4 separate regions of the Homo sapiens genome follow, and regions 2, 3 and 4 are each linked to region 1. Evidence: fine-mapped expression QTL. A gene starts in region 1. Each other region holds a variant in brackets. All regions are shown on one strand. Distances are from middle to middle. Region 1 holds the start of STEAP3 (STEAP3 metalloreductase). Region 2 overlaps STEAP3 (STEAP3 metalloreductase). Region 3 overlaps C2orf76 (chromosome 2 open reading frame 76). Region 4 overlaps C2orf76 (chromosome 2 open reading frame 76).

The links. PIP is the estimated chance that this variant, and not a neighbour inherited with it, causes the effect.
Region 2: its variant is fine-mapped to the expression of STEAP3 in whole blood (TOPMed, PIP above 0.99). The same link has a PIP of 0.9 or more in blood mononuclear cells.
Region 3: its variant is fine-mapped to the expression of STEAP3 in whole blood (TOPMed, PIP above 0.99).
Region 4: its variant is fine-mapped to the expression of STEAP3 in whole blood (INTERVAL, PIP above 0.99).

What each region holds. Positions count from the first base shown.
Region 1 is chr2:119,221,166-119,225,941 of GRCh38, forward strand. It overlaps STEAP3 (STEAP3 metalloreductase), which reads left to right and starts at 2,669. Exons shown (of 6, transcript NM_182915.3): 1 at 2,669-2,723. RefSeq lists silencers at 2,412-3,191, 3,252-3,321.
Region 2 is chr2:119,260,708-119,265,483 of GRCh38, forward strand. It overlaps STEAP3 (STEAP3 metalloreductase), which reads left to right. Exons shown (of 6, transcript NM_182915.3): 6 at 2,350-4,776. The coding sequence ends at 2,631. Among named protein-coding and RNA genes, the nearest start is that of STEAP3-AS1, 14 kb to the left of the region's middle. RefSeq lists a silencer at 4,617-4,716. The variant C/T (reference allele first, on the strand shown) is at 3,036.
Region 3 is chr2:119,298,364-119,303,139 of GRCh38, forward strand. It overlaps C2orf76 (chromosome 2 open reading frame 76), which reads right to left. Exons shown (of 6, transcript NM_001322331.2): 6 at 3,862-4,185. The coding sequence ends at 4,109. Among named protein-coding and RNA genes, the nearest start is that of STEAP3-AS1, 52 kb to the left of the region's middle. The variant G/C (reference allele first, on the strand shown) is at 2,059.
Region 4 is chr2:119,319,703-119,324,478 of GRCh38, forward strand. C2orf76 (chromosome 2 open reading frame 76) reads right to left here. Exons shown (of 6, transcript NM_001322331.2): 3 at 1,452-1,502. Among named protein-coding and RNA genes, the nearest start is that of C2orf76, 45 kb to the right of the region's middle. The variant C/CAT (reference allele first, on the strand shown) is at 2,151.

The DNA.
Region 1 (4,776 bases):
AACATAAAAATCCCTGCCCAGGAGGAGCTCACATTTCTATGGGAGAAGACAGTTACTGAAAAACAGTCCAAAAAACTCTATTTTATAGTGTGTTCAGAGGTAATACAGGCTATGGGGAAAAAAAGAAAGCAAGCAGGTACATGGATGAGGAATGGGGGCGATCAGCGTGGGCCTCACAGAAATGATGACCTTTCAGCCAAGACTTGGAGGAGGTAGGGAGGGTACCTGGGGATGCCTAGGGTCCAGGCAAGGGGAACGGCAGGGGTCAGGATCCTGTCAGATTCATCTGAGGTGGGACTGAATGTGAGCAGAGAGAGGGAGACAGAGGATGAGGGCAGAGAGAAGGCCAATCACACTGGGCCACGGCTATTGCAAGGACTTTACTTTTGCTGGGGGAGGGGGTAGAGTTTTGAGCAGAGGAGAAATGCGATCTGGCAAACATCTTGCAAGGATGGCTCTGACTGTTCTATCCTTGGCAGAGGACACCAGAGTCTGGCCCATAGAAGGTGCTCAACAAAGCTCAGCACATTGCACTCCTCCCTGGAGTAGGAAAGGGCTCGTCTGCTTTGGGAAATTTGGCTCTCAAGCTTCTGGAAACACCTGACCCCATGCCAGGTGAGACAAGCTCACACTCAAGGCCCCCTTAGTCCAACGGTCAGTGGACAGAACAAGCACCAAAGGTCAACGGCGTGGGCGGTGGCCTCTCTGCCAAAGTGTGTGGGCCCAAGTAGGGTATTCACCTCCCTCCCTGTCTGTGAGAAATTTCAGACCCCTCTACTTTTTCCAGCAGGAGTTCATGTTCCTTTTAAGATAATCCTCTATAGACCTCTGGCAGCCCAGCCTTCAAAATGTCTCCCCCTGTCTCTCTTACTCATGGAGAGCCCCGCTTCCCCGCCTCAAAAAAAAGTCTTCCTCTCTCTTACTCATGCATGGAGAGCCCCACAAAAAGACACTGGTTCCCAGGGATTCTTCCAAAGATGCTGGAAGACCTCTCAGTGTTTGCATTTCCCAAGCTCGGTTTCCTTGTGCTGTCCTTGGGCATTAAAGGAAGGCTATTCAGCCATCCCCATCAGCAGGAGCAGGCATCAAAAGAACAGCTACTGCAGGGGGAGCATATTAGGGGCACCAGAGGGGGCTAGGAACTGGGTCTTGTCTTCTCAAAGTTTACAACCCACTGCAGGGGCCACTCACCAGCCCTGGCACCCTAAGGGCAGGAACCTCCATTGGGCACGTGTGTCTCCAGCACTGGGAGCACTGTCTGGCACCTGGGGCACTGTGAGTGTTGAATGGATAAAGGACCTGTAAGAATTGCCATAAGAGGTGTTGCCCTGGGGCAAGGTGGGACAGGAAAGTTCTTGCAAGAGAAGAGAGGCTCTGGCCTTGGGCCCTGGCTGAGCAGAGAGCTGGGAGGTGGGTATTCGGGTAGGAGGAAAGCTGTGGAGGGGGAAAGCAAACTGCCTGCGGGGGTGGGGGGGTTCTCGGCGGGAGTTGGGGGTGGAGGGAAAGGCGCTTTACAGCAGCACTCCCTCCACAGGGAGACCAGAGCTCTGCCTCTTCCTCCCCACCGTGCCCTTTGGGGTCCAGTTGTGGGGCCTTCCTTGAGGCCCAGCTCCTGCCTCTGGCCTCCGGAGGCTTATCTCCCCAACAGAGGCTGGCTCCCCAGAAAACAGGATTCTTAGACTTCCTAAAAATAACCTGAAGCTCCTTATCAGAGGCTAATAGTGTATGTCTCCCAGGAATACTCTAGAAAGAGTACCAGGGGTCAGGAACCCCCACTCAGCCTCCACGAATCTGAGCGGAAAAGCCCGGGTCTCCTCACCTGTAAAGAAAATAACTGCAGCCGGCAAATGTGACCACAGGTGAGAAGGGGCTTCGGACCAGGGCGCACACCTCTAGAGAGGTGCCCACAGACAGCCTCCCCTTACTTACGCCCTGCTTCGCTGCAGTGCTGTGAAGCCATCGGCATTGGAAGTGCGGAGGGCAGCGGGCAGTGCCCCAGGGGGAAGGGGGGACGGGTAGGGTTTCAGAGCCCAGAAGGCCTAGACAGGGAGGCAGCTCCGGGAGAAAGGTACCCGCCATCCCACCGGTCTTGGAACCTGAGGACTGCTGGGAAGGGTCAAAAGTCTGCCCTAAGGGTGGACAAGGGACAGAGATTGGGGGGGGACCACAAAGGCCTGGGCGCAACCTTGTTGAGAGGGAAGGGATCCGGACCCAATCTGGAGCCCTGGTCTCTTCCCACCTGCAACCGTGGCTGCCACTTGGCCTCGGTTATAAAATGGACAAGGATTCGAGGTGCTCCTCAGGTTAAGAGAGGGGGGCCTAGAGGTCACCCTGGCCTCGGTGCCCTCCGTGGCCGGGTTAAGAGGAGGTCCCGGAGTTCTGCTCACTTCAGCCGTGTGCCGGGCACTGCAAATCAGGAAGTGTTGGCGCCGGCTGGCGACCTCCCGCCTGGGGCCAGGGGAGGAGGGTGGTTGGACGCTGCCACCGCTGCCGGGGCTGTGCAGGGCTGGGCGGGGAGCGAGGACCCGGCGGCTCCTGATTGCGGCCCCGGGGGAGGTGGCCGAGCCGGATAAGCTGCGGCGGGCTGGAGGGCGGCCACCTCCCCTGCAGGTCCGGCCCTCCCGGGCGGGTGGGGCGCGGGGGAGGAGGAGCCTCGGGCCGAGCCACCGCCTTCGCCGCGGACCTTCAGCTGCCGCGGTCGCTCCGAGCGGCGGGCCGCAGAGGTGAGTGTACCCTCCCCCGGTCTCCGCGGGGCTGCGTGCTGCGCCCGGTCCCCGAGACGCCCGCCCGGTTGCACCCTGCGCCGTCGCTGCGCGGACCTCGGGTGCCGCCACACGTCTGGAGGCGACTTCTGTCCCCTGGGACCGAGCCACGTGCGCCCGGCGGCAGAGAAACCGGGTTCCGGGGCCCCCACCCCGTGTGCCTTCCTTCCCTAGGCGTGGAAGCCGCTTGCGCCGCGCAGGTTAGGCAGGGCCGGCGGCGACAGTGGCGGGGAGCAGGCTCCGGAGCCCCGGGTGCAGATGTGGGCGCCCCTCCGGATGACCCCGGCTGAGTCCACAGGTCCCGTGTGCCCCACGGCTGGGGCTCTGGCCAGCGGTCCCAAAGGAGGGCTGGTAGCTGTGGGCGGGGATCTTCCAGGCTCTTCCTCGCCAGACCTCCCAGTCCCTTCGCAGCCGAACAGGGCAGGGACAGGGGCAGGTGCAGGGGCTGGGCAGGGGCGCCCGACCTTGGTCCCCAGGAGGAGGCTGGCCTCACCAGTGCCCGCCTCTGCCCGCGGAGCCCTTGCCTGGCAAAGTTCCCCCTCCTGCCCGGCAAAGCTCCCCCTCCTGCCCACTTCCCCGAAATTTGGGGACAGGCTGCCCGGAGAGGTGTGGTTGGAACTTTGGTCACTCTGGGTAAATGAAGGGGAGGGTGTGCCCAGATAATATGCGGTTTGGGGACCAGAAAGCCGGATCCGTGGGGAGAAGCAGGAAGGTCCCGCTGGAGCCCTGGCAGAGGGCACAGAGAGGCCTCCCAAATATCCAGGGCCACCTCAGAGATGGGCTCCAGAAGTGGGGATTCTGGAAATGCCCCCAGGGAGGTATTTCTGTCCATCAGAGTGCAGCCATAATATAATTAACAGCAGATATTCCCATTTATGTGTGCCAGGCATCTTGCTAAGGGCTTTGAGCACAATATCCCAGTTAATCCTCACAACAGGAAGGCACCATTATCTCTTGTTAAAAATGGGGAAACAGCCTCAGAGAGTCCACGTATTTTGCAAGGATACACAGCTAGGAAGTTGCAGAAGTAGAATTTGAACCCAGAGTTATCTGACTTGGAGCCCAGAGGAACCTACCACTGGGGCGAAACAGGCTGTGTCCTCACGGGGATTCTGGCAGCCCCAAGAATACAGTGCTGAGAGCCAGAAGGTCCACAAAACCAAAGGGTCTCACCTGGGTGTGTCCTCTCAGTCACCTGCAAGGCTTGTTAAAAATATAGATCCCCAAGTCCCATCCGAAGCTGACTGAATCAGCTAGGGGCACCTGGAGGACCCAGACTATGTCTTACTCATCTCTGTCCCTGGTGGCCTGCAGAGGGGCTGGCAAGGAGCAGGTGCTTAGTGAATGTCTAATGGGTAAGTGGGCGGGGTGGGGTAGATGGTGTCACTAGTGTCCTGAAGGGGGCTTAAATGGAGCAGGTGGCCTCAGCCAGGCAATCCGGCAGCAGGTATGGAAGTGACACAGTCTAATGCTGGCCTCAGAGCCAGCAGGGAGCTCAGGCTGGGCCACTTGTCCACCTGGGGGTTGAACAGCCTGCCCCAGGTTTGCTGAGGTCCCCAGGACCAGGCCAGGTCAAGCTGGGATCACACATGTTCCCTCTCCAGCCTAGAGATGTCAAACAGGTAGATTCCTCTCCCATTCATATCTCCTATCCTTGGCCCACAGCCCTTCCCTTCTTGGACTTATCAGAGACCAAGGTGCTGGGCAGGGCTTCAGGTGGTTAAAAAGTGAAAGTTCTTGAGTGAAGTCCAAAGGCGCACACCTGAGAGCTGAGTGGGCAAAAGGTCGCTGGCTGAGTGCTGGGGATAGTCTGGCTTTGGAGTCAGATGGACGAGTCCAAATCTCAGCTCCTTACCCCGTAACATGAAGCCCTCAGCTCTCTGAACCTCTGTTTATTTGCAAAACCTTGCCAAGGGCTTCAAACAGGATATCCTCATAAAACAAGTATGCCTATTTGGGGGACTAAGTGTGTGAAGTGCTGAGTTTTAGGAGTGCAGTAAATATCGGATCCCTC
Region 2 (4,776 bases), 40 kb after region 1:
ATTCTTGACAGACACTTCTGGAAGTGGCAAGGATTTGCTTATGTGCAACTGACAGTCAAGGAGTCTTCTCTTTGGGAGGTGACCACATTAAAATGATAGGAATTCACTGTGGGTGACAGCATAAAGCCAATCGTGGCTTCCTCACTCTTCGTGGTGAGCCAGAAGTTGTTAAAGACTGGGCCAAGAAGATTCCAAAAATGGACACAAAGCCAAGAAGAACCAGAGAGGGTGAGGAAGGATAGAGAAGGTTTTATTTGGTTATTTTACTTGGGCCCAAGAATGTTGAACGTGAGAACCTGTCTGTGAAATTGTAGTGTGCAGCCATTGGAAAATGTTTATTATTATCTTTAGCAAAAGCTTTACAAGCAATTCTCCCACACCATGTTCTTTCACTCACTGACGTTCACTGTCCTGGTGTCTGTCCTGGAGCAGGAAATGAAGGGACACACACACACACACACCAGGGAGGAGCAAGAACGGGGCCCAATGTGGAATCAGACCCACTTAGAAACACTTCTGAGGGGAGTGCAAATGAGAAGCGTCTGTCAGCCGAGGCTCTGGATTGATGCCAACAAGCTGGGCTAGAAGGGAATCCAGGAGGCTCAGTCCATGCAGACCACCCAGAGGTCTCAGTGTGCCGCCACACTTAAATTACACCCTCGCAATGTCTCCTTGGAGAAAATGCATATGTGTTCATTGCTTGATGGGTCATCGCTATTTCCATCCCTGTGTAATAGACGTGGGAGGTCTCTCCCAAAGCTCTCAGTGGCTCACCAGTGCTAGCAGAATTCAGTCAGAGCACCCCTGTGCCACGACTCCCTCGCTCTCGGTGCCCTCTGCTGTGTCACTTGCCTGCCCTGTCTAGGGGACTAGATGGAGGCTACTGCAACTACTCAGCGCTTCCCCCTCTGACTTTAGCTTTGGAAATTACTTATCTCCCACTGAAGTTGATTAAGTCGCCTGCCCAGGGTTCATATCAGTTGAACCAGCACCAACAGTAGAACCTGCATCTCTTCCTTCGTGGTCCACGAGAACTCGTACATGCCAAGAGGCTGGAGTCATAGAGCAGCACTTCCCAGCCATTTTCACATTGCATCTCTTACAGAAAGTCATGCTTTGGGTGGTGGATCAGCCACTCTCGGCTGGAAGTGACCCACAAAAGCCCACACATTGTTCAAGGGGTGTGAAGCTCCATTGTAAAATGGCCGGGACCATTTCCATTTAGAGTTGGGATGGTCTCTTCTCCCAACGGTCACTAATCTCCTCCAGATGGAAGAGTAGGCCCAGCGGGGTTTCCACCCGGGTTGTTTATAACCCAGTGTGGGGTGGGAGGTGAAGGTCTAGCATGCACAGAGGGCATCTGTGTGGTGTTCTGGGGCTTTCTATACGGTGCCAGGTCACCCAGACCACAGGCCCCGTGAGTCCCCTTCGCTACTGGTGCCAAATCCACGTGCCATCTGTAAATTATTTACTCTGCATTTATCTTCAAGCTAATTTAAAATCAATCCACTTTTTGTCTGATCTTAACTTAGGCCAAATGTTATCTGTGAAATTATGATTTTGGTATGCAAGCAGACACTTGTTACTCTAATATACATTAAAATACACACATAACTAGTAAAATTTATACACACACACACACACACACATATACATGTATATGTATATATATATTTAGAGACAGGGTCTTGCTCTGTTACCCAGGCTGGAGTGCAGTAGTGCAGTGGCACAATCTTGGCTCACTGCAACCTTGACCTCTTGGGCTCAAGTGATCCTCCCATCTCAGCCTCCCAAGTAGCTGGGACAACAAGCACATGCTGCCACAGCCTGGCTAATTTTTTTGTATTTTTTGTAGAAACAGGGTCTCACTATGTTGCCCAGGGTGGTCTTGAACCCCTGGGCTCAAGCAGTCCACCCACTTAGGCCTCCCAAAGTGTTGGGATTACAGGCGAGAGCCACCGCAGCAGGCCTTAAATGTTTTTTAAACTTCTTTGAACTTAATTCCATCTGAAATCATCCAGCAGCCTCCAGAGATAACAAATAACAAAGTTAAGGAAAAAGCATGGTCATATAGTTATTGTATGGAATCCGTGTGAATTGGTGGGTCCTTAGACACCTTCAGCATAGAAGCATTATTCCCATTTTCCTGTTGTGGAAGCTGAGGCACAGAGAGTTGAGAGTTATCATAAGATCACACTAAGAGAGTGACAGGACTGGGGTTCCAACCCATAGCGGTGAGTACTAAAGCCACCCTCCTTCCCCTCCGCCAGGCCAGCAGATGAGTCGTTGGCAGGATCACTGCATCTGTCATCCCCTCGCCCTCACTCCAGCCTTTTTTTCCCTCCACAGTCCTCACTGGGCTTTGTGGCCCTCGTGCTGAGCACACTGCACACGCTCACCTACGGCTGGACCCGCGCCTTCGAGGAGAGCCGCTACAAGTTCTACCTGCCTCCCACCTTCACGCTCACGCTGCTGGTGCCCTGCGTCGTCATCCTGGCCAAAGCCCTGTTTCTCCTGCCCTGCATCAGCCGCAGACTCGCCAGGATCCGGAGAGGCTGGGAGAGGGAGAGCACCATCAAGTTCACGCTGCCCACAGACCACGCCCTGGCCGAGAAGACGAGCCACGTATGAGGTGCCTGCCCTGGGCTCTGGACCCCGGGCACACGAGGGACGGTGCCCTGAGCCCGTTAGGTTTTCTTTTCTTGGTGGTGCAAAGTGGTATAACTGTGTGCAAATAGGAGGTTTGAGGTCCAAATTCCTGGGACTCAAATGTATGCAGTACTATTCAGAATGATATACACACATATGTGTATATGTATTTACATATATTCCACATATATAACAGGATTTGCAATTATACATAGCTAGCTAAAAAGTTGGGTCTCTGAGATTTCAACTTGTAGATTTAAAAACAAGTGCCGTACGTTAAGAGAAGAGCAGATCATGCTATTGTGACATTTGCAGAGATATACACACACTTTTTGTACAGAAGAGGCTTGTGCTGTGGTGGGTTCGATTTATCCCTGCCCACCCCA[C/T]CCCCACAACTTCCCTTTTGCTACTTCCCCAAGGCTCTTGCAGAGCTAGGGCTCTGAAGGGGAGGGAAGGCAACGGCTCTGCCCAGAGCCATCCCTGGAGCATGTGAGCAGCGGCTGGTCTCTTCCCTCCACCTGGGGCAGCAGCAGGAGGCCTGGGGAGGAGGAAAATCAGGCAGTCGGCCTGGAGTCTGTGCCTGGTCCTTTGCCCGGTGGTGGGAGGATGGAGGGATTGGGCTGAAGCTGCTCCACCTCATCCTTGCTGAGTGGGGGAGACATTTTCCCTGAAAGTCAGAAGTCACCATAGAGCCTGCAAATGGATCCTCCTGTGAGAGTGACGTCACCTCCTTTCCAGAGCCATTAGTGAGCCTGGCTTGGGAACAAGTGTAATTTCCTTCCCTCCTTTAACCTGGCGATGAGCGTCCTTTAAACCACTGTGCCTTCTCACCCTTTCCATCTTCAGTTTGAATGACTCCCAGGAAGGCCTAGAGCAGACCCTTTAGAAATCAGCCCAAGGGGGAGAGCAAGAGAAAACACTCTAGGGAGTAAAGCTCCCCGGGCGTCAGAGTTGAGCCCTGCCTGGGCTGAAGGACTGTCTTCACGAAGTCAGTCCTGAGGAAAAATATTGGGGACTCCAAATGTCCTCTGGCAGAGGACCCAGAAAACCACACTGGCTCCAACTTCCTCCTCATGGGGCATTACACTTCAAAACAGTGGGGAGCAACTTTTCCACCAAAGCTACAAACCTAAAATGCTGCTGCCCCAAAGCACAAGAGGGAAGAGCACCGCCGGGGCCACAGGACGTCTGTCCTCCAGTCACAGGCCATCCTTGCTGCTCCCTACTGACTCTAGCTTACTTCCCCTGTGAAGAAACAGGTGTTCTCGGCTGAGCCCCCAACCCTCTGCAGAACCAGGTTGATCTGCCACAGAAAAAGCATCTTTGAAGACAAAGAGGGTGAGGTCTTCATGAGTCTCCTGGGCCCAAAGCCATCTTCTGATGGAAGGAAGAGAGTAGGGCCAGTGAAGGCTGCCCAGAGAGAATGTCACAGATGAGGCTGCCCCTGCCCCCCCCCCGCCAGGGAGGTTTCATGAGCTCATGTCTATGCAGCACATAAGGGTTCTTCAGTGAAAAGCAGGAGAAGAGCCCACTGCAAGGATAGCTCATTAGGCACATGACCGATGCAGGGAAGGCCATGCCGGGGAAGCTCTTCCTGCAGGTATTTTCCATCTGCTGTGCCAAGGCTGAGCGGCAGAAACTTGTCTCATAAATTGGCACTGATGGAGCATCAGCTGTGGCCCACAGAGAGCCTTGCTGAGAAGGGGGCAGGTAAAGCAGAGATTTTAGCATTGCCTTGGCATAACAAGGGCCCATCGATTCCCTACTAATGAGAGGCAGGGAGAGCATGGGCAATGGAGACCCACCAATGATCCCCAACCCCGGTGGGTACTGGCTGCCTGCCCTGGGCCAGGGAATGGCTCCTTATACCAAAGATGCTGGCACATAGCAGAACCCAGTGCACGTCCTCCCCTTCCCACCCACCTCTGGCTGAAGGTGCTCAAGAGGGAAGCAATTATAAGGTGGGTGGCAGGAGGGAACAGGTGCCACCTGCTGGACAATCACACGAAAGGCAGGCGGGCTGTGTACTGGGCCCTGACTGTGCGTCCACTGCTGTCTTCCCTACCTCACCAGGCTACTGGCAGCAGCATCCCGAGAGCACATCATCTCCACAGCCTGGTAAATTCC
Region 3 (4,776 bases), 77 kb after region 1:
ATTACAAATACTACCTTTATTAGCTATTGTTTCCATGTAAATTTTATTAGTTTCCATATTCTATTCCATTGATCATTTTATCTAGTTCTGTATCATTACCAACTTGTTTTGATCACTGAATCTATTTTGACATCTAGTAGGCAACCACCCTTTCTTCTAGCCTACGTTTTGTTTTTCCAAATTGATCTTGGCTATTCTTGCATATTCTTCTTCCAAATGAATTTAAAAATCAATTTGTCAAGTTCCATGATAAATCCTTTGGGATTTTGATTGAGACTGCATTTATTTATGGATTAGGTAGGTATCTTCCATCTATAAACATGTAATCTATCTCTATTCAGGTCTTTTATACTCATCTAATAACACTATTTTATAGCTTTTGTGAACAATACATTTTAGGTTCAGCACTCAAGTCTCTTAGTTCAAAAAAAACTTAATCTTCTTGCAATCATATTGTCTACAAATGAATGTTTTGCCTACTCCTTTCCAATATCTGAGAATCTTACTATTTTTCCTACTGGCTACAATAAGACTTGCAGAAACATACTGAATAGTACTGGCAATAGTGTTCATTCTTGTCTAATTCATATTTTTTGTGCTGGAGTGCAGTGGTGCAATCACAGCTCACTGCAGCCTTGACCTCCTGGACCCAAGGGATCCTCCCACCTCCGCCTCCCAAGTAACTGGAACTACAGGGGCAAATTACCACACCCAGCTAATTTTTTTTTTTTTCTTGTAGAGACGGGGTTTCATCCTGTTGCCCAGGCTGGTCTCGAACTCCTGAGCTCAAGCAATCTTCCCGCCTCAGCCTCCCAAAGGGCTGAGATTACAGGCCTAAGCCAATGCACCCAGCCGCAGCCTCTTATTCATATCTAATAGATTTGCTGAAACACTTCTCCATTAAGTAGGTTTTCTATGAGCAAACTTCATCAAGTTAAGGGTATTTCTTTCCCTTGCTAATTTTTATATATGCATGAGCAAGAATATCATCAAATGCCTTTTGGCATCTATTGAGATAAACATAATATTTTTTCTCCTATATAGATTTTGAAAAGTATATTGAGAGATTTTCTAATTTTGAATCAATCTTCCATTCCTGGTAAAAGTCCTTTTTAGTCACAATACATTTTTATTTATTGTAAACACAACAGAAATGTCTTTTCTCATAGCTGTGGAGGCTACAAGTCTGAAATCCAGGTGTCAGCAGGGCTCTGCTCCCTCTGCAGGCTCTAGGGAACAATCCTTCTTTGCCTCTTCTAGTTTCTGGTGGTTGCTGTTGATACATTTATTTTTGATTTTTTTTCTGTATTTATAAGTGAAAATACTCTATATGTACCTTTTATAAGAAAAATACATACCAAAAAAGGTACTATACATACATATTTTTGCATTATCTACTTAAAAATGCACAGGTAAAGATATGCTTAATTTTATATTTTAAAAAAGCCTGGTATGCAAATTGAATGCGTGCAAAGCAAACAAATGGAATATGTTTTAACCTCTACTTATTGAGTTCCCTATTTGGATTACTGCTGCCATCATTAATCCAGCCACTCAACTCCAGCAAGAATCACTGAAGTCTCCATTCCTTCCTCCCCACACTATCCCCGTCCAGGCATTCACCAGGTCCCAAACATTCTAAGGTCATTCTACCTCAGGTCTCCACTGGGAGGCTGCAGGATGGAATGGGGGAAGTCAGGATTTTAAGACAGATTTGGTTCCAATCCCATTGCACATGACTGCATTCTCTTGAGCAAATAACTTTACCTCTCTGGGCCCCAATTTCTTCATCTATAAATATACATGCTACCATTGAAGAACTGTGGTAAAAGTCAAATGAGATAACATATGTAAATTAACTACCACACCATATTTGCCACGGAACGCACGATCACATGGTAACACCAAGAACCTCCCCAATCCTCCTCTTCCCCTCGGCCCCTGCCCTAGGCCAGGCCTTCCAAACTTCACCTGCTCAATGATGTCTTCTAGTCTTTCTGCCACCTGGACATTGCTGACAAAGCTCACTTTCTAAAATATAAATGGAATCAAATACCT[G/C]TTTAAATCATGCTACTGGCTCCCATCTACCTACTAGATACCGTTCTAACTCCTTAGCATGACTTGTAAGGCCTACCTCAACCTACCTTTCTGGCCTTATCTTCCTCTACTCTGTTCCATGTACTTTACACTCCTGTATAGATGCTCCTCAACTTACAATGGGGTTAGTCCCAATAAACTCATTGTTGGTTGAAAATATTATCTAAGTGAAAAATGCATTTAATACACCTAACCTATCAAACATTGCATTAGCTTAATCTACCTTACATATGCTCAGAACATTTACATTAGCCTAGAGTTGGGCAAAATCATCTACCACAAAGCTGATTTTATTGTAAAGTATTAAATATTTCATGTAATTTATTGAATACTGCACTGAAAGTGGAAAACATAATGGCTGTATGGGTACTCAGTGTTTCTACTGAATGCCTACTGCTTTCATACCACTATAAGGTCGAAACATCATTAAGTTGCACCATCTATAAAAGTCAGGGACACTAAAATTTGCGCTTTCTCCTGAAACCTCAAGCTCTTTCACAGTCCTTTGCCTTTGTGTATGCTATTCCCTCTTCCAGAAAGCCTTTCCCTTCTTTTCTTCTAAGCAAAAATTCCCATTCAATCTTCTAAGACACAGCTCAACTGGTACTTCTTAAAAACACACACACACACACACACACACACACAACTAATTTCTGTCAACAATGCTCTGATGGCAGCTTTTTCTGCTATTCTTAAAATCATTTGCTTGTACTATGTCTTTCTCCATTCACTGAGGCAAAAACTGGGTCTTATTTTCCTCTTTATTAACTCCCCCAAAACTACATCATCTGTGTATTCAACACTTTGCTCCTGAATGAAACAATGAATAAAATAAGTAGAATTTATCTTAAAGAAGACCCTATTAACTTTTTCAACAAAGCAAGGCATCTTCTAATCATGTTAATCAGAGTTTCAAAGTTGATTTGTTAAGAAATCATAGGTTTTCTTAAGTTAGACGTGACCATAATGAAACCAATTTGCCCTCCTGGCAACTCTGAGGACTCAAGGAGCAATGGCAGAGCCGGCTAAGCCCTCCGGCACTCAGGGAGCAATGGCAGAGCTGGCTAAGCTCTCCGGCACTCAGGGAGCAATGGCAGAGCTGGCTAAGCTCTCCAGGACTCAGGGAGCAATGGCAGAGCTAGCTAAGCTCTCCAGGAGTTCTGATTAAATGCAGCCTGACTGAAAGGCCTCTGAAATAAGGACTCCACAGGTGCTGGCGGTCAGCCATAATCAGGAACCACAAGTATTATATTATTTAGAAGGAATGTATCTTCCAGGACATAGACTTGTTCTCAATGAACAATTTTCTTCCAGAAGTGCAAGCATCCTGCCGCTTCCTCTCTCCAAATAAATGAGTTTGATTCTATGATAGTTTCTTCCTGAAGATGGAAAACACAGCTCAAGAAAGAAAAGAAAAAAAAAAATCAGCAACATTATTTGTATAGGCTGCAATACTTTAAAAAAAAAAAAAAAGTAACCTTCCTACATCATAAAACCTCCCTAAAATATACACAATTCAATTGCACATATGGTGGTATGTATCACACACCCTGAACTAAAAGGTAGCCATGAAGGTCAAGAAACTCAGAATTTCTGGTAGCCACAGACAGAAACAGTTGCTCTAATTAGAAACTACAGAAAAAATATACAATAAACAGTATGATCTTAGTCTTAGAATCTTTTTAAGGAGCTCTACATGCAAGTCACAAAAATAATTCCTAATTTTAGAAAACAAATTATAATTTAAGAATCAATATTCCACAATAATTTTTAATAACAATTTATTTCCCTTTAAAAAGATCAAATGTTTTTCTCATAATATATTATTTTACAACAACAAAGAAAAAGAAAGAGAGAAGGAAAGACCTGAAGAGAAAGAAATAACCAGATTTTAGCTCAAAGAGTATAGCCTGGGATTAATTTTTTAAGATTTGTTTGTCAATTTCAAAAATTCAGCAGTGGAATAAAGAGCTTAATACAGGTATGCAAAAAGGAAGCCCTCGAGATGTTTTCACCAGGATGAAATGGGATTAGCTTTGTAGTTCTTATAATCTTCTTCACAGAAGAATGCAATTTCAGTTTCACTGGCTGAAAAAAAACAGAAAATGGAAAAAAAGATTTTAATGTAAATCTAAATTTTAAACAAGTATGGAAATCCATATGACTTTGATTCGGTATTTCAGAATAGCTTCAGATGCCCAAAGTGAAAAAGATGAGTTATTTGTTGGGTCGCACAATGCATTTTACCAAATCAACAAGAAGTTTCAGGTGAAGTTTTAAGAATCAAAACCTCAAATGATTTAAAAGTAAAAAAGAACAAAAAATAAAAAACCAAAAATTAAAATCAAGAGTTAATACAAGAATCTGGTTTTCAGGAAATCATAAAATTGCTCATTTACAGTCTTTTTTACAGTGCTAGGAAATAAAAAACCTTGATTTTTTTCTCAAATATGCTACTCAGGTACTGAAGGAAGGGGAGGGAAAACTCTTTTCCCCCCCTGAAATTAGCCTGTAGGTATAATAATTTAATACTTAGAGGATCAGTAGAATATTTTACAGATCACTTTACATTCTCCCTCATGACCCATCAAAATATGTGTCTGAAGAAGTTAATTTTTTGCCCTGCTTATGATTAATTCATGCGGCTTCAACAATATGCAAAGTGAAAGACACAAATTG
Region 4 (4,776 bases), 99 kb after region 1:
AGATATCTCAGGCTCTTGGTGGCAGAGAGAATCAGCCCTTTGCCAAAGGGTAGGGAGACAGTGACTGGCAAAACTGAAATCTGACTCCACACTCTTTCCACTCCCGAATACCTAACAAAGTGCCCTGTCCCGCAGACCGTGAGGTGGCAGTCCCGGATGACAATGACAGGTGAAAATAACACTGCAGCCTTTCTTGTTCAACAGAAAGCAGAAGATTGTTAAACAGCCAAGTTCAGACAAAGCCACTTGAAGTCTATCAAAACTCGAGTGGTTCTATAATTTCTTCACAAATAAATGTATTCATTTTTTCTGCCAATTCATCTGAATAGTATAGAAATACTAGGGCAGAAGGAAGTTAATAAGATAGAATAGTCTAAAAGGTACATTATCTACCACAATAATGCTTAGCAACTTGGATATTCTAACGCTTTCATTATCTAAAATTTCTTTCAAAAGAACTTACATGGAACACAGCTTTGCACATAGACATATAGATACACACATACACACACACCATGAAAAAAGGAAACCATATGTAACTATTCTAATTTAAAATGGCATCTGTAAGTTGATTCAAGTTTAAGGCTATATTTCAAGACATTATACTTTGAAAGCCTTGAAAGCCACAATTGAGAAGTTTCATATTTACCTTAATCATCCTTTTTATTCCTTTATCTTATTCAATATTGAGTATGTAAATTCTTTAAGCCCAATAAATCAAAGTACTTTCCACTCAGTGCCTTCAACTTCTGCTTCACTACCCCTTATAACCTCACAATTAGTTTCTGGATATTAAAATGCATACACACGGCGAAGATTGTGATTTCAAAGGATTTTAGGTCATAAGTTGTTCTATCAAATGAGAACAGAATGAAAAGCCACTCCAAAAAAAAATCTAAGGTAATAAAAAATTTATACTTTAAAATGTCTGCACCAATTAAGAGAAATATTTATTAGGTGCATCATACCTTTCAAATGAAGTCTCAAATTCAAAGTTTGGTGAGTGTCACTCTGCTGAAGGTTAATAACTGTGCCATCTTTATAACAAATAATGAATGACAACATCTAGCTTCTTACCTTATTACTCCATTTTTAAATCATCAATTGTAACACATAAAACTACTATATAACATGCTCAAATTATTGGCATTTAAAATGTTAAATCCCTTCTTTTAATTCTTAGTCTTCAATCATTTTTCCTTTTCTAATTACCTGGCAGAGAAACTCGTTTTAAACACAGTTTTGGCAAACATGCTACTCTTTGCAAATACGCCACTTCCTTACTATTACAATTCATTTCAGCAATATACTAGCATTCCTGTATTTCTAAATAAACTTCCAAATTGGTTTTTATTTACAGATAGTCATTTTTGAAAACAAAATTTAAGTTTGTAACAAACTAATGCAAAATTGTATTTATATATATTTTAAAAGAATAAAAAAATGGTTACCATATTTATAATTTCTGAATGGTGGTGGCAGGTTGGTCCTTAAAGGGATATCTACAAGAGAAAGATTATTTTTTTACACAATAAGCAAATAGACACTCATAGAATATGCACAGTCTTTTGGTTCTATTCTTTTCTATCTACAGACTAAGTTACCTTGAAAAACCTGACAGAACACAGAATAAATACATCACCGAAATCCAAGGGCCATCTATATTAGTCCATTCTCATACCACTATAAAGAAATACCCAAGACTAGGTAATCTATTAAAAAAAATGTTTAATGGACTGGGGAGGCCTCACAATCATGGCAGGTGAAAGAGGAGCAAAGGCACATCTAACATGGCGCCAGGCAAGAGGGTCTGTGCATGGGAACTGCCCTTTATAAAACCATCAGATCTCACGACACTTATTCACTACCGTAAGAACAGCATGGGAAAAACCCACCCCCATGATTCAATTCTCTCCCACCAGGTCCCTCCCCTGACAGGTGGGGATTATGGGAGCTACAATGCAAGATGAGATTTGGGTAGGGATACGGCCAAAGCATATCACCATCTAAAATATTAGAGCTATTGACAAGATGTTGAGTTGTTACTATCTGAACTAAGACTTCAGTAACACTATTAAAAGAATGTTTAATTTCATTAGACAACAGTATCTATGTATAGTTAAAATATATACTAATACACTTGTGTGAGA[C/CAT]ATATATATATATATATAGCTGATGTTTGTTTAGCATATGAATCTGAGAGCCCCTTATGGGTCTTTGGCCATTAGTGGAAACCAATGATCTAGAACAATCTTATTACTCCACCAAAATTCATATAACCAACAAAATAACTCCTCTAACTCCTCAAAGACAACAAAACACAGTAAATATTCTTTTAAAAACATATTCCAAATGCCAGTACTAATTTTAATTAATATCTGCTGGTACAACACCTAACAGAGAAATGTGTGTATATATGTGTATATATATATATATCTCAAAATTACATATGCACATACTCCTTGACCTAGCCATTCCACTTCAGAATCAATGAGTGAATGAACGAATTTATTGATTAACTGATTGACACAGGGTCTCATTTTGCTGCCCAGACTGGAGTGTAGTGGAACAAACATGGCTCACTGCAGCCTCGACCTCCCAGACTCAAGTGATCCCCCTGCATCAACCCCCCAAGTAGCTGGGATTACAGGTGCATGCCACCGCACCCAGCAATTTTTTGTATTTTTTTGTGGAGATGGGGTTTTGTCATGTTGCCCAGGCTGGTCTCAAACTCCTGAACTTAAGCAATCTGCCCACCTTGGCCTCCCAAAGTGCTGGGATTACAGGCATGAGCTACTATGCCCAGCCGGAAATTTATTATCATAGAACTATACTACACACGAGTGTGTGTAAAATGACATTCATAGAAGGGTATTAACTGCAGCATTGCTCACAGCAGCAAATGTTAGGAAAAGTCCAAATGTCCTTCAATTAGGTACTCGTTAAGTAAATCATAATATGCCCAAACAATGAAAAATACTTTTCAACTGTTAAAAGAAAAAGAAGGAAGCTCTCTACTAACATGATAAGATCTTCAAGTTACATCAAGGCTAAAGAGATATGAGAGAACATTATTTTTAGGAAGCTACCTTTTGAGTAAAAAGGGGGTAAAATGAGAATTTATGGTGGGATTTGCTTGTACTTGCTGAGTGGGGGGTGGGGAGGGCAGGGGGGTGCTGCACTGGTCAGACAGAGACCAGAAGGGTAAAGGAGACTTTTCACTATATTCCTTTCCACATTTTGATCTTAAAACCACATGAATGTGTTACCTACTAAAGAAAAGTAAAACAAACAAAAAATATCCACGTATCTAAATTAGGAAATGTGAAGGTTTTTGAGACAGGGTCTTGCTCTGTTGCCCAGGCTAGAGTGCAGGGATGTGATTATACTCACAGTAGCCTTGACCTCCTGGGCCCAAGCGATCCTCCCACCTCAGCCTCCCAAGTAGCTGGGACTACAGGCGCTCAGCACCATGCCCATAGTCCCGGCATTTTTTTTTTTTTTAATAGACAGGTTTCACTAGGTTGCCCAGGCTGATCTAAAATTCCTGGGCTCAAGCAATCCTCTCACCTCGCCCCGAAAGTGCTGGGATTACAGGCATGAGCCACTACACCTGGTCAGGAAATGTGGGTTTTTTTAAAATGCTTTTTCAAGATCAAATACGTATCAAATTAAAATATAATTGATTAATTTATGTTACAAGCATTTAAAGCACCTACTACCAGGTATTCCAGGAACAGAGTAAAAGAGGAGCTGCCCACTCATGACAGCGTGTGCTCCAGTGGTGAATGCTGTAACAAAAGTACGTTTCCAGCCAGTGCTATGGTCCTAGGAGTGTGGTCCTCACCCCGGCTGCACGTCAGGATCACCCAGCCTGGCACGAGTGGATCTGACTCACGGTAGGCTGGTCCCAGGCAGAGATATTTAAACACAAAACAAAACAAAACAAAACAAAAAAAACCCTGAGATGATTCGTACTCAAATTCACCCAGAGGCCAGACAGGTGACAACAGGTAAGTGAAGCAGGTCAAACAAGGAGGGGCAGTGAGATCTGAGAGCATGCGCCCATCAAAGGGGGCTCTGCCAGTCAGTGCTGACTGATCACAGTGCTGTAGGAACATGAGCCTGGAGTGGCCACACCTAAAGATTTAAATGGCAATGCTACAAGTCTAGGGTTTTAGGTGAAATTTCTTGACTTTTAAAACACTATAGGCCAAAAGAAACCTCTCTGGAGGCAGGATTTGCCTGCCAGATACCAATTTGAAACCTCTGGCTTAGGCTTACCAGAGCATATGTACTTCATTTTATTCTTCTTGTGTCTCCATTATTTGTGAATTATGGGCCAAAGCAGTATTCATTCAACATCAGAAAGGAGAATTAATTCCATTTAATGTATTGACATTTATATTTCCTGAATTAGACAATGAAACTCCCTGAAGAAAGCCGTGAGGTGAAGAACAGATGGCCCCATGAAGCTATTATCATTTAGAGATGTCTACGACTGAAGAAATCAAATCAGTCTTATGTTCAATCCAGACTTCTGAGAGAAGAGACAACGACCAGGACACAGCGAGCACCTATTCTCTTCCTGCCTTTACATCTTAACTGAAGTGCCATCTCCTCTGACAACCCTTCTAAAGCGGGGGTCTTCTCTGATATTGTTTCCTTCATAACAGGTTTTACAATTATAGTTTTGTCTTTTAACTTATTTTTGTCACTATTTCCTATGAATTTATAAATTCCTCGGGATGAAAACGTGGGCTGTCCTCTCAAAACCTA